2 linked regions of the Homo sapiens genome follow. The protein of the gene in region 1 purifies or fractionates together with the protein of each later gene. This does not show direct contact. Each region holds a gene or a part of one and is shown on either strand. Other genes may lie near its edges. The genes, in order: C10orf90 and GPR150.

Region 1 (3,814 bases):
CTACACCAGGACTTCTGATCTACAAATAATCAATGGTGTTGTTTTAAGCTGCTATGTATGTAATAATTTGTTAGGCAGCAATAAAAAACAAATACAGATTGTGTCTGCCAGATTTTTTCCTTTTTCTAATAGCCAATCATAACAGACACAATACATGATCCTGCCTTAAATTGATATCATCTCAGTCATAAGTACAGCAGCTAGCTGCTTCAGTTAATTTGTGCATGGTGATCATTTCCCTTGGACTGGAGAACCCCTACTGTTAACCCTGTGGACCATGATTTTGGAAACACTTAACGTGGCATGGGACAACCTTGAGAATCTGGCTTCTGCTATTGTATGCTTGACACAAATGTCATTAACTTGGAAAACTTTTAGCCATTATTTCTTCAAATCTTTTTTCTTCTCACTCCTCCCCCACATTCTTTCTGTGTATCTAATCATATGTGTGTTGGGCTTCTTGATATCATCCTCCAGGTCACAGGAGCAGCATCCATAAAGTACTAGTTACAATTTGCCTGCACCCAGGGGCCACGTCTTTGTGCCATGGCTCTATGATAGAGTTGGAGATGGCAGGAAAACATATGTTCAAACTTGGACAACAACAACAACTCATTTTCATGGGGTACAGCCTCCATGCCAATTCCAAGGCTCAACCCTTTATATAGGTTATCTCTTTTAATGCCCCCAGCAACGCTATAAGGCAGATATTATCATTGTTCATATGAATACAGATGAGAAAACTAGGCTCAAAGAGAACAAGAAAATTGCCAAGGTCACTCAGCTAGTAAGAACCCAGACAGTCTCGACCCAGTGCTCTTTCTCTTAATCACACCACCACCTGTCATCTGCCATCTCTTCTCTCCCTTGGTTTGGCTGAAATGTGGATATGGTTTCCCCACAAGTTCCCAATTCCCTGATGGAAATTGACCAAAATGATGTCAGATAGATCTTACAGTGCTCTTTCTCTCTTGCTGTCTCTCCCTCTCTGAATCTCACTCTTGCTCTCTCTCTCTTTTTTTTTTTTTCTCTCTTGTCTTCATTTTGGAAAGTTCATTGATCTTTTCTTCTGCAGCATCCAATCTGCTGTTAATCCCACCCAGTAAAATTTCCATTTTAGATAGTGTCATTTTTTTCTTATCAAGAAGTTCTTTTTTAAAAATCATCTATTTCTTGCCCCATTATGGTGATGTCTTTTCTTAAATCCTTGAATTTAAAGGGCAAACAATATAATTATAATATTTGTAATAGCCTTTTAATAGATCATTGCTTGCTAATTCTCTCATTTGCATCATTAATGAATCTGTTTTTACTAACCAGTATTATCTTGGTTATGAGTCATATGCTCTGGATTCTTTGAATGTTTAGTAATTTTGATTGGATGACAGACATTGTAAATTTTATATTATTGCTTGCTGGATTTTGTTGTAGTCTTGTTAAAAAAAAAAAAAGTTGAACTTTGTTTGCCAGCTAAACCACTTGAGGAATGGCTTGATTATTTCAACAACTGGTTTTAAAATTATTATGGGTGGATCTAGGGTAGCCTTTACTGAGGCTAGTTTAGCCGCACTACTAAGACATGACCCTCCTCGGGGCTCTACGTGATTTTCCCTGTATTCAGTGAGGTCTCTACATTCCAGGTGGTAAAGGACCCGAATGATTCATGGCTCTGAGGTAGTGCTGAGAAAGGCTCATCTCACAGCTCCCCAGTAAGATGTTCTTTCCTTGCCAGTTTTCTCTGTCTGGTCATAGAGACTTTCTCCCTACACAGCACAGATTAATTTTCAGCCAGACTTAAGAGGGCCTGAAGCAAACTTCTGGAGCTGTTTTTTTTCCTCTCAAGAAGTGTGCCTTGCAAATAACAGTCACATCCTGTGTCTTCTCAGCTCAGAGAGACTACTGGGTTCTGTTTAGGTTTTCCCTTCCTGTGCCCCCGTTCAGAAATTGCCATTCCTTCTGCCTAAAATGTCCTCCCCTTCCCTATTTGCCTATACTCTCTCTGTCCCCCCACGCCTGGAAACCTCCCACTCTTCCATAAAGAATGTGCCCAGAGGTCTCCTCCATGCATTCTTGCTGAGTTCTCTGGATCCACAATCTGTGTAGACACCCTGGCCTGGCATCATTGGGATGGGTGCCTCCGTGCATTCTTGCTGAGTTCTCTGGATCCACAATCTGTGTAGACACCCTGGCCTGGCATCATTGGGATGGGTGCCTCCGTGCATTCTTGCTGAGTTCTCTGGATCCACAATCTGGGTAGACACCCTGGCCTGGCATCATTGGGATGGGTGCCTCCTTGATCAGATGATAAGCCTCTTTGTCCTCTGTGTCCCCGGCACCTACCACAGTTCCTGGCACACAGTAGGTCCTTAATACATATTTGTTACAAGAGCCAGCCCAGGTGTTTCCTCTTTAATCTGTCTGCTCCACTAGAGGAGGAAGAGGACCTAGAGTGGCAAAAACAGAGGGTGGTAAGAACACATGTGGTCCTCAGAACTGTAAGGAAGTTATCAGTGAGAAAGCTGCGGAGGGACAAATGTCTCAATCAGAAGGAAAGAGAAAGAGCACCCGATTTAGAGGGGCATGATAACTGCTCCTAATCACTTGATCCTGGTGTAGTTGACTTTCTCTGTAGTTAGCTCTGAACCTCCCTGGGTTCTAGCTGTTGTTGTCAGGAGATGTGCTGCCCCCGACCCAGCACCACGTGAGAAGTATAATCTGCAGAAGAAGACGTAACATAGATGGAATCCTCCTTCCGCCGCTCCTAACTGTGTCACTGTGCAGCCTGCACCATCTCTCTGGCCTCACAGAATTTTCTCTTTGGAAAAATAGGCCTCATGTGTCTCACACAGCTGTGGTGAGCTTCAATGAGGCAATTCAGGAAATCAGCTGACACCCGCCTCTTTTGTTCCATCTCCGTCTCTCAGCTCTCCTTGCACGCAGTGGTCCTGGCTTCCACACTGTCCTCTCTGACTCACATCTGCCCCCACCCCCTGCCCTTCTACACACCAGTTTTCTTAACATGGACAATTCAGCTGGCTTTTTTGTGACTTCCTTTGGGGTTCATGCGGTTGGAAAATATTGGTCTAGAACTTGCAGATCATGGGTTCAGAACTGCAAAAAACCACCAAGTACCCTATTTAAAAACATAGATTTCTGGATGCCACCCCTCCCAGAACCCAGGGGTCTGAATTCTCAGAAAGTTCTAAGGATTCTAAAGTACACTAAGGTGTGAGGGCCATGCAATCTTCCATAAGATGGTAAAACCCCATTTAGATCCTTGCCCCTAGGGAGGTCCATTTTATGTCGAAAATGCCTCATTAATGCTTTCTACCTTAGCCCTAGCTTTATCGTGAGGGAATCAGGTGTGGAAGAACTCACACTCTCAAGAGTCTCTTGTCCGTGATGGAATTTGCAGCTGGCCCCAGGAGTAGGCGTGCTCTAAATGAAAACTGTGCATTCAGGTCCTGGCCAATTTGATGACTAATCTCTGAATTGCTTGGGGGATGGAGATTACCCTGAGCCAAGAATATAGAAGGTCATAAGTCTCTGTGACCTGACGCTCTGAGTGTGGGGAAGCAGGGAAAGGAAGTGTTTTGCCCCAATTTAAACAAGACCTGCTTACAAAGCAGCAGCACCCATAAATCACTGGTTACAATTCGCCTGCACCCAGGGGCCACTTCTTGGTGCCGTGGCTCTGTGTCACTTTCACGGGGTACAGCCTCCATGCTAGCCCCAAGACTTAACCCTTTATATAGGTTATCTCTTGTAATGCCCCCAGCAACGCTATAAGGCAGATATTATCATTTTTCCTATG
Region 2 (4,082 bases), on another chromosome or scaffold:
ACATGTCAAGCATTGTTTAAGCATTTGGAATATATTAGTGAACAAAACAGCCCTCAGCATTGGCTCTACAAAGAGCTTTAAACAATCATTTCCCCTTTCTGCATCTTAGGTCTGCATTTGTGCATGAACAAGAAACACTATAATGGAAAGCTTTAGATCCTCATACAAAAATCACTGATAAACCCATGGATATATTGTTCATAAGTGCTGCCACTTCTGTCTAGAACCAAGAACAGTTGAGAGGAAGAGGTTACTGATCAAATCCGCTCTTGACCTTGTTCTCAGCTATCCACACCAACAGGCATTGAATTCATTTTTTTAACAAGGGAGTTTTATATACACATGCAGCATTCTGAGGTTTTGACTTCCTTCCTAGCTGCAAATCTCTTTGAGGCTCCATCTGGGACACTGAGCCCCACCCATATGCACCACCTTGAAGCTTCCTTTCTCTGGTTTGCTGGGGACTTTGTACGGAGAGGCTCCATCTGGGCATAGCATTACACCTTTAGAGGCTGCTGGGGGCACAGGGACGATTTCCAACAGAAACCAAGTATATTTGAAAGACACCAAGTCAAGCTTTTGTTTCCTTCCTACAACCTCAGCTTCTGTTGAAGTGGAAACTAGACTGGAAATAAAGGCCACGCTGATTTTCTTCTGAGAAAATACATTACTATGTTAAAAAAAAAAAAGTCCCAATTGCTCCGTGGGAAAGGTTTTTATTTTATAAATACTCTGTGGCTCTGAAATGACAGCATGATTACATTTCTGACAGCACTGGTATAATTCTCAGACTCCCCAGGGAGAGCAACGTGGGGATTTTCCTCCTGGAAAGAAAAGGCAAACTTGCAGGTGCTGAAGGTACATTTGATTTAAGCACGATTCAAAATAAGTAAATACAGATGATAACACAGCAAATACTGAAAGTTGGGTAATCAGCAAAAATAAATGGCATTATCCAGAGCACTATAAATGCGTGAAAGAAAACTGCAAAAATAACTGTTTTTGTTTTTACAACTTTCCAGTGGCTCACTGTCTCCAAATGGGGAGATATGAGAGGAACTGTAGGGAAGAAGAGAAACTGGAAGAGCATAGGGAAATGTAAACATGAGAAGGGAATAGGAGAGTGGAGGAAGGGGACAACTTCAGTGTCACTCTCTCACAGACTCTCCTGCCCCTTGTGATCTGGACAGACCCTGGCAGGCCTCGAGTTCCCTGGAGGTTGCGCCTTAGCGACAGATGACCCGTCTCTGACCACCAAGCACCTAGAAGGCACTTTCGCAGGAGCAAGGCAGGGGTCTGGGGCGCGGAGGGGGTGGGCGCAAGCCGCCCTCGTCCAGCGGTTCCCGCCGAGCATGGTGATAATGAGGGTGGGGCCAGCGTTGGCGGTAGAGCGCCTGGTGGCCCCGGGGCCCCTCCTCGTCCTCCGCGCCTCCCTGCGGCGCGCAGCACAGAGAGCCCAGCCGCTTCCGCAGCTGTCGCCGGAGCCGGCAGTCGCCCGCCTGGAAGAAGAGGTAGACGAAGGGATTGAGAGCGCTGTTGGCCATCGCCACCACGCGCAGCGCCGCCGACAGGCCCTCTCCCTCCCAGTCTCCCGCGGGCCCGGACGACCACGCGGCCGCCAGCCGGGCGGCAAAGTAGGGCAGCTCGCAGCCCACGAACAGCAGCGCCAGCAGCAGGCTCATCTTCAGGCTCTGCACCTTGGCGCGGGGCAGCGCGCTGGGCGCAGGGGCTCGACCTGGGCTCGCCGACCAGGGCGCTGCAGCCGCGGGGGCCTGCGGCCGGTGCCGCCACCAGACGGAGAGTAGGTGGCCGCAAGCGACGCCCAGGACCGTAACAGGCGCGACGAAGCCCGCGACGGCCTCGTAGAACGCGTAGACCTGCAGGTGCCAGCGCGGCAGGGGCGCGAAGATCCCGTGGCAGCGACGCTCCCCCGGCCAGGCGCGGGCGGCCGGGGGCGCGCCTGGCTGCAGGGACGTTGGCGGCGGCGGCGGCGGCAGCGGCGAGGGGGAGTCCCCGCGCACCACGAAGGCCGGGGGCAGCGCCAGCAGCAGTGCCAGCAGCCAGCCCAGGGCGGCGAGGGCACGCGCGGGCAGCGGCCGGCCGTGCGGAAGACGCACCGCGCGCCGGCGCTCGAGGGCGATGAGCACCACGAGGTGGGCCGAGGCGCCCCGCCCGGATGCCTGCAGCAGCTGCAGGAAGCGGCACGCCAGGTCCCCCGTGGCCGCGCGGGGCTCGCCCAGCAGTTCCCAGGCCAGCTGTGACAGCGCCGTGCCCCCGCACGCGTACAGGTCCGCCAGGGCCAGCTGCACCAGCAGGAAGTCCATCTTGCGACGCTTGGGGCCCGCCCAGGGCCCGCCGCCGCCGCACAGGCGGCACAGCACTGTGGTGTTGCCTGCCACCGCCACCACCAGGATGACCCCCAGGAACACCAGGCGGACGCGGCGGCTGGGCGGCCCAGAGGCAGGGGCTCCTTGCCCCAAGGTCAGGTTGAGACCCCAGCCCAGCAAGATGGGCACGGAAATGTTGGGCGCCGGCGGCAGAATTGAGGGGCTAAAGAGATCCTCCATCCTTGTCCCGGAGGAAGAGGAGGCACCGAAGAGGGCGGGCAGGACGCGGGAAACCAAAGTGGAGGCGAGGCGGCGCGGGGAGCGACGCTGGGTCTATACGAGTTCCCAAAGTTAGTTGAAAAGGCACACGCACAGAGAGGGAGATGGATTCGGGCGGCTTTGCGCTTAGTTGTTTTTGTCGATTGTCCTCGTGATTTGTCACTCAAATGTGGGTTGTACACTCGAGGAACACACATGATTCCTATTCTCCACCTTCCCCGCGTCTTCCCTCCCATTCCCGGCGGGTACTCTTCCAATCTCTGCAGCGGCCCCCGACGCTACCCTCGCGGAAGCCGCGGACCCCTGGGCGCTGAGAACCTCATCCATTCTCTATTTACGTGTAAAGCACAGCAGGACAGAATGTCGCTTTGCTTGGCCATTGTATACGGCCAGTGTTATGCCAGCACCCACACAAGAGAGGACCTCTTGACTGAGATTGTACCACACGCCCCCACCACCCCAATGTGATTGCCAGTAGGAAAAAAATAGAAAAGACATTAGTTTTTATTTTAAAGGTTTGAAATGCCATGGATCTGCACGAGCATGAGAAAAACAGGAACACAAGAAACCTAACAGCGTTTTGAGCAAAGAGGAGACCTATTAGCTGAATTTTGATCAAGATGTGTCTTCTCTGTCCAAGAATGAAAGTATTTTAATTAGAGGGTACTAAAGTCAATGATGTTGCTTTTAGGAGTGGCAGTGTTGCAGATCGTTCCAAATACTAGGAGCAGTGGGTCACAGCTGCTTTCTTGGTGATGTAAAATTCATTTCATTAGTCTGAAGAGGGCATTAATAGGTTTTATGCAAATGGTAGTGCATTTATTGCTTTTCTCCTAATATTTTCATCCAGTGAAGGATGCGTCATCACACTCCTCATTCTCTTGATTCTGTTTTCCAGCAGATGGGAAGTTGCTAGGAGGGGCTACGCCTCCAATAAGCCTAGAGAAAAGGTGACTAAGAAAGTGATAAGGCGGCCAATTTTTTTAAAAAAGAAATCCAAGTCACAGGAAATGGTTTAGATTAAATGTTGCTGCTTTCATTTTAGCCTTGTCTCCTCACAAACACATTTTAGTTTCCCTGTTGGAAGCATCCATTTGTCTTTTTATGCACCCTCCACGTTAATCATGGTGAAAGTAGAATTTCCTGTACTTCCTGGCCTGGGGGCCAGGGAGGTATGAGTGTTGTCTAGGGTTCACATTCCCAATCTGAGGAAACATTTGGAACTTTAAGATTCATGGCCTAGGAAGATTTGGTGGGTTCCATGATAGTCCTGCCAGCTGCTGTAGGAATCCCATTTCCCAAGCTGTTGTCCTTTGGCCAGAAACCTTGGTTATTTTCATCATCATCTCTGTGGTGCCTCGCTCTGGTCTGACAGGTTGTAGTTATCAGTGGGTATGTGTTGAGTTGATGAATTAGTGGATATACGATGCTTTTCAGATACCTTCGAGCATAAATGCCTGCCTTGACTATAAATCC

The links.
Region 2: the proteins of C10orf90 (region 1) and GPR150 purify together in Homo sapiens (affinity purification with mass spectrometry; one large-scale study listed by BioGRID and IntAct). This does not show direct contact.

Annotation. Positions count from the first base shown.
Region 1 is NC_000010.11:126,660,656-126,664,469, forward strand, and holds part of C10orf90 ((E2-independent) E3 ubiquitin-conjugating enzyme FATS), read right to left. Parts: intron 1-3,814. UniProt on the Homo sapiens protein: Tumor suppressor that is required to sustain G2/M checkpoint after DNA damage. Acts as a p53/TP53 activator by inhibiting MDM2 binding to p53/TP53 and stimulating non-proteolytic polyubiquitination of p53/TP53.
Region 2 is NC_000005.10:95,618,761-95,622,842, reverse strand, and holds GPR150 (probable G-protein coupled receptor 150), read right to left. Parts: upstream 2,757-4,082; 5' UTR 2,568-2,756; coding exon 1,263-2,567; 3' UTR 701-1,262; downstream 1-700. UniProt on the Homo sapiens protein: Orphan receptor.